Homo sapiens: one gene and its partner. The protein of the gene in region 2 interacts with the protein of the main gene of each other region in a pairwise test. Each region holds a gene or a part of one and is shown on either strand. Other genes may lie near its edges.

Evidence for each region.
Region 1: the proteins of STX8 (region 2) and DHRS9 interact in binary tests that used the Homo sapiens proteins (3 or more experiments, as listed by UniProt).

Annotation. Positions count from the first base shown.
Region 1 is NC_000002.12:169,075,953-169,079,611, reverse strand, and holds part of DHRS9 (dehydrogenase/reductase SDR family member 9), read right to left. Parts: intron 1-3,659. UniProt on the Homo sapiens protein: 3-alpha-hydroxysteroid dehydrogenase that converts 3-alpha-tetrahydroprogesterone (allopregnanolone) to dihydroxyprogesterone and 3-alpha-androstanediol to dihydroxyprogesterone. Also plays a role in the biosynthesis of retinoic acid from retinaldehyde.
Region 2 is NC_000017.11:9,548,194-9,551,852, forward strand, and holds part of STX8 (syntaxin-8), read right to left. Parts: intron 1-3,659. UniProt on the Homo sapiens protein: Vesicle trafficking protein that functions in the early secretory pathway, possibly by mediating retrograde transport from cis-Golgi membranes to the ER.

The sequences.
Region 1 (3,659 bases), on a different chromosome or scaffold from region 2:
AAAGTGCGGGGATTACAGGCGTGAGCCACCACGCCCAGCCTGGACTTTATTTTCTTACAATTATTTCCTAATTTTTCCTTCGAATCCTTTTCAAAAATCATTTATTTTTTTCTGCTTGTAAAAGTAATTTATCCTCAAGAAAAAACATAGAAAAAAAGAAGATAGTAATGATTATAACACTTGATTCAATATTTTAGTGCATTTTCCCCATTTTCTTCTGTATTTGTAAAGTTTTCTTTCTAGATCAAGAAATATAAACATACACACAGAATTTTAAACACCACACACACAGACACACACACACTATTTTTACTGCTGTTTGAGAAACAGACTATTTCAGATTAAAAAAAATCAATGTAATGTCTTCTTCACTTCTCAAGAAAATTTCGGGCTCTGCTTTTATCTTTCTTCCCCCAGAAGATCTATAGCTAAAGAAAAAAAAAATGATAAAAGAATTGTCAGTTCAGCCGGGCCTGGTGGCTCACTCCTGTAATCCCAGCACTTTGGGAGGCAGAGGGGGGCAGATCACAAGGTCTGGAGTTTGAGACCAGTCTGGCCAACATAGTGAAACCCCATCTCTACTAAAAATACAAAAAATTAGCTGGGTGTGGTGGAGGGTGCCTGTAATCCCAGCTACTCAGGAGGCTAGGGCTGGAGAATCAGGCAGGAGAATCAGGCAGGAGAATCGTGAACCCAGAAGGTGGAGGTTGTAGTGAGCCGAGATCATGCCATTGCACTCCAGCCCTGGCGACAGTGCAAGACTCTGTCACAAAAAAAAAAAAAAAAAAAAAAAAAAGTCAGTTGATAAAAATTAAGTCAGAGGAATATAAAAATATGTTTGGAGAACCTACTTGATTCTTGTGGTATAGCTACAGCTATTTCTGAAGTAGTCAACTTTTTAGATTACCATGGCTTAATAATTTGGTATAGTTTTTCCAACTCTTTTCTGTGTAAGAGTTATAATTTGTTGCAAATCAATGTCCATGTAGCAAGATTTCCCGTTCTCAAATACATTATAAATGTATAATTATGGGAGGGGAAGTGGTATAACTAACTCTTGCAAAATTACATGTTTAAACCTTTTAAGGAAATTTTGTATCTACAAATTCAACTAATATAGCGTTTTGCTCAAATCTGGCTTCAGTAAATAATCACCGAAAGGCGAAATGTTTAATATATTTTCTGAATGGATTCTGCAGCTTTCATTGCAGTCTAAACTCCCAGGGGAATTATTTGAAGAAGACAAATATTTGTGGGGTTTTATGTTCTCTAGAGCAGAGAGTTGGAAGTTTTTGTGTTGTCATTTTTACCAGGGGCATGCACGAGGGAGTCACAGTAAAATAATGTCATACATTAGTAAGGCACTCTATGCTGTGCTTTCACACACAGGTCTCATTTTGTCCTCTCAATAGCGTTTTGAGTTAGAGAGGGCATATTATTTGCCTTAGAAACTGGCTCAAAGCAACAAAGTGATTTGCCAAGGTCACTGGGACTAGAGTGCTGTGTCCTTCCACTATAGGAGACAGATGAGGGGCTCTGGGGACTGGAGCACTCCACTCTGGGCTGGGCTGAGAAGTGTCCAAGCTGACAAGCTGAGTTGATAAGGTCGACACTTCACATCTTGTCCATGATTGCTGAGAGGCAGGGATAAAAGTCCACTGGCCAAAAGCAACATCTGACATCTGAAATAGTTGTGGCTACAGAGTCATCTCCCCTCATAACCTCCTCTGTTATAGTATAATAACTGACACAAGGTCCCAGAGGGGAAAGTAGATGAGGGAATGGGGGAAGGGAAGCCACAAGGAGGGTATGTTTCATGCATGTTCCTGTGCATGAAACTGGGTTACCAGCCCCTAAGGGATTGAATTCAGTTGGATGGATGATTTGGGCATCTATGAAAGCTTCTCAGACAAAAGGGTGCCATTAGAACTTTGAGAGAGTCTGTGGATAGAATTCAGGGGTTTCTACATTTGGATGGGAAAAAGATCCCATCTTTTTTTTTTTCCTGAACTGTAATTGAAGTTTAGCACAATCTTCAATTACGGAAGAAACAACAAACCGCAGTAGTATTTGTATTGCCTGTGATTTTGTTACCAATAGAAATAATAAATATTTTCATGTTACATTGCATTTGTTGGAATTATCTCAAAATATGATTAATGCTGATTACTACTTCAAAATTATGGTGGTTATTGTTCCTGCCACCATGTTAATAAAATAAACTTATAAATATTTGGATGTATTTCAATACAGTAGTTTTCTTTTGTAATACTATGTATTTCACTTCAAGTGTTAAAAAAGTTATTCTCACTTCTGAGGTAGCTGTAGTAGTGACAGTCATGTCAATCCAAATTTCCTAGGACGTACTCCAAAAACTATGCACAATTCAAAGAGAAGAACAAATAGAATCACATAAAATCCAAGCCTCCACCAGAGCTAGAAAACAGACAACCCTATTATTTCAAATTATTTGATTGAGAAAATAAGCACAGCTGACATCTGAACAACGTGGGCTGTTGGATCCCATATTGGATCCAAACTGCCTGGATCCACTTATGTCTTATTTTCTTCAGCCTCTGCCACCCCTGAAACAATAAGACCAACCTCTCTTCTTTTTTCCTCCTCAGCCTACTCAACATGAAGATGGTAAGGGTGAAGACCATTATGATGATCCACTTCCACTTAAAAAACAGTAAGTATATTTTATCTTCCTTATGCTTTTCTTAATAATATTTTCTTTTCTCTAGTTTATAAGAGTACAGTATATAATACATATACAAAATATGTGTTAATTGACTATGTTTTTGGTAAGGCTTCTGGTCAACAGTAGGCTGTGAGTTAAGTTTTGAGGGAGTCAAAAGTTATACATGAATTTTCGACTGAATGGGGCACTGGCGCCCCAATCCCTGTGTTGTTTAAGGGTCAACTGTAACTAAGCTGTGGATGATGGAAGCCAGGCTTCACACTGTCAGAAGGAGGAGTAGCAAATATGAAAAAGGAGAGGCTGGAATGAACTCTGTGGAGTGGGATTATAGTTGGAAGAATCAGTATGAACTCCTGGTTTTTAATATGAGTCAGTAAATACAAAAATGGATAGGTAACTTTCTAGATCTACCCGATGAGCTAGAAACAATGACACTCCAACAACAATGAACATACCAAGGGCTCAGAAACCAATTTCTAAACATTGTGTTCATGTTCTTTGGAAAAGCTAACATCAGGGCTGAGCTTGGAGGCGAATGTACAAAATAAGCCTGGAGCATCTTATGCTACAAGTAAGTAAGTGCTCAACGAATGCTGGAGATACATCACTAGTACATAGATGTCAGCTGGAAGGGGCTCCCACTGGCGAAGTAAGAGACAATTTGAGCATCAAAGCCAATAGTGATAATGGGTAATAACTCATTAAATCAGATATGAATTCATGAATCCATTCTGAAGTAAATCAATCAATAAATAAGGATAAATGGAAATTTTTCCTTAGAATTAATATGCCATCTAATAAGTGTCAGACGAATGATGGAATTAGAATATCACCATTTGGCAACTGACATAGCAACAATGGTTTCAGGCAGGAATGATCAATGGATGCTAAAACTAGTGGGTCAAATTCCGATGACAGACAGTCATTATAGAATCTCAAAGAATCTCCCTGTCAT
Region 2 (3,659 bases):
TCCAGAGTTTAAGCAATTCTCCTGCCTCAGCCTCCCAAGTAGCTGGGATTACATGCACATGCCACCATGCCCAGCTAATTTTTGTGTTTTCAGTAGAGATGGGGTTTCACCATGTTGTCCAGGCTGGTCTCGAACTCCTGACCTCAAGTGATCCACCCACCTCGGCCTCCCAAAGTGCTGGGATTACAGGCATGAGCCACCATACCCGGCCACCTCATACATTCTTGATAGGAATGCAAACAGGTTCAACCAACTGCTAGACTGCCTTCTAAATACCTAACAAAATATAAAAGGTACAGTCTTTCAACAGACATTTCTTCCTCAGATACAGTCCTACAAGGACTTAGAAGCAAGGATGTCCACTGAACCATTATTTATAATAGCCACATTGGAAATATCAATAAGTAACTAGTGTATGTAAACAATGGAATGTTTTGCAGCCTTAAAAAAAGAATAGGAAAGCTGTTTAGGGGGCTGATAATGATAATTAACATTTTTGAGCACTTACTAAGTGTTTACATGAATTATTTGACATGGAATAATCTACAAAATATAACATTAAACCAAAGGAGGGGAAAAAAACAGCAGCAGCAAGGAGCTAAACAGTGAGTAGTGTGCTCCCACTTTGTTAAAAAAAAATCCTAACTATATATGTGTGTATATACACACAGAAAATTTCTGATATATAAACATTGCCTCTAAGGAAGGACAACTGAGGATTAAGGGTATAAGAGAGACTGATGTTTCACTGAATATTGTTTCCTAATGTTTGTCTCTATCATCTGCTAATTAATAAAAACACAAGCTTCAGAACCATATGTATAATATAATCCCTTTATAGTCAAAGGAATTTTATGTTTACATATGCATATATTTCAAGCCTAGAAAAGTCTGAGATACTAGCTACCAACCATTAACACTTAACTATAAAGAATGAGATGAGACAGGATAGAATAAGGAAGAGAAAGAGGAGTCATTGGTAATAACTAATGAGAAATGTATCAGTAGAAAGTATAATATTTTTTGTAATAAAAACAATAAAGGTACATTTTAAAATCAGCAGATACTAGTTACAGATTTAAACTTACGTCAAGAAGGAGCTAACAAAGAACATCAGTTTCAGAAACAGTAAAACTTGATGACTATGTTTTGTAGATGAGTAACCAAAGAACAGAAACCCACACAGTTGATGCTAGAAGAGGCCTTAAAGATCCCAGTTCTCTTGTTTTGCTGACCAGAAATTAAGGGTGAGCATGGCTAAGTCACTTGCCTGGGTTAACAGCCATGCTAGGTGACAGCTCTTTCAACCCTAGCTCATGGCTTTTCCACCAAACATTCTGCAGACTTCTCCACCTTGAGATGCTGACTTAACTTTGCCACTTCTTAGAATCCTGATAAAAACAATACTGGGAGTACGAATTCAGAATATTCCCAGAGACTCTGTAAATCTGGAAAACAATCCAATTAGGAACATGCTGCCTCTTTGTTTTATATTTTAATCTACGGAGAGAACAGAGCATAAGGAGATGGGGAGGAGGGAGATGGAATGAGAATAAATTGATTAATGAACCATCTGCATAGCACCCTTGCTATGTAAGGGTTGTTATTAGTAAGAGGTCAAAGGATCATCCAGGAAACAATCTATACAGCATGTATGTGGACAGGTGCGTAGCAGTTGGGTAAAGTAGGGTAGTGGGGAAACAGTGTGCCTGAGTGATGCTAAGGACAAGTAGAAAGTAGGACACACAGGCCAAGCGCGGTGGCTCAAGCCTGTAATCCCAGCACTTTGGAAGGCTGAGGCAGGCGGATCATGAGGTCAGGAGTTCGAGACCAGCCTGGACAACACGGTGAAACCCCATCTGTACTAAAAAAATACAAAAATTAGCTGGGTGTGGTGGCACACGCCTGTAGTCCCAGCTACTCAGGAGGCTGAGGCAGGAGAATCGCTGGAACCCGGGAGGCAGAGGTTGCAGTGAGCCAAGATCGTGCCACTGCACTCCAGCCTGGGCAACAAAGTGAGACTCCATCTCAAAAAAAAAAAAAAGTAGTACAGCACACAGTCAGTGGCCAGTGCTGGGGAACCTCCTCTTCCACCAACCTGGTGAATAGCCAAGGAAGAAGATAAGAGAACAGACAGATAAAGAAAAGGAAGAGAAGAGCTAACTATCATAGTACTTTGTCCTTGGCTATGCTGATTGTACATGTAATTATAGCCAATTCATGGATATGTAAGGTTGTAAATAAAACTGGATCCCCTGTAGTCCCAGCTACTCGGGAGGCTAAGGCAGGAGAATGGCGTGAACCCGGGAGGTGGAGCTTGCAGTGAGCCAAGATCGTGCCACTGCACTCGAGCCTGGGTGACACAGCGAGACTCCATCTCAAAAAATAAATAAATAAAAATAAAAATAAAACTGGATCCTGATTTCATATTACTGATACCTACTACCAGCATGCATAAGTCCAGCTTCTCTGCTGTAGCCTGGTGAGCATTTGAACCACAGATGGAGCGGGGTAAATATGCAACTGGATCCACAGGTCACCCAATCCCACTCCAGCTCCTGGATTTTCTCTTATATTTGGTAGAAGGCTTAAGAATTTAGGCTGGGCACAGTCGCTCACACCTGTAATCCCAGCACTTTGGGATGTTGAGGTGGGTGAATCACCTGAGGTCAGGAGTTTGAGACCAGCCTGGCCAACATGGCAAAACCCCATCTCTACCAAAAACACAAAAATTAGCCAGGTGTAGTGGTGCACACCTGTAATCCCAGGTACTTGGGAGGCTGGGGTAGGAGAATCGCTTGAACCTGTGAGGCGGTGGTTGCAGTGAGCTGAGATCGCACCATTGTGCTCCAGACTGGGCAACAAGAGTGAAACTCCGTCTCAAAAAAAAATAGAATTTAGGTAAGCCTTATTTTGTGAAAGAGCTGCTCTGGCGAAGGAAGAAGTTTGCAGATAATTAATTCTCCATGCCAAAAAAGAAGAACTGCAAGGGAACAGTTTAAGGTTCTAGAGGTCAAAAGACTTTTCTGGCTTTCTTTTTTTAAGTCAACAAACTCTAATAAATATTTATGATGTACCAGGCCAAGTCCTTACCTTCCTCAAAGCACTGATCACATTTTGCAAGTACTATTTTAATACCATCATTGTTTGTGAGTTTTGACATAACCATCATGCATGATTAAAAACTCCACAAAGAAAGGATGACCTGTAAATTCTCAATGGTAGCTGAAATCTTTACAATAATGATAAAATAATCAATAGCAGCTAATCCTCAAGGAGGACTTAGTATATGTGAAGCACCCTGTATGCATATAATCTCATCCTTACACAACAATCCTTTACGCCAGGTGGACTTCTAGCATCCCATTCCACAAATGAGGCACAAAGAGGTTAAGTAACTTCCCCAGGGGTGTTGGTAACCACCTTTTATTCAACACCCACCATTATGGGGGGCTAGTCCTGTGAAGAAAAAAGATTTTCTTCAACTTGTACAATAACCTGGCAAAGTATGATTATTCCTACATTACAGATAATGAAACTAAGGTCCAGAAAAGCTGAACTGCTGTTTGGCCTTGGTAAGTGGCAGAGCTGGTCTTCAATCTCAGTTCTGTCTGCTTTCAGAGCCGATGTTGTTCCCACGATACCAATGGCACCTAGAC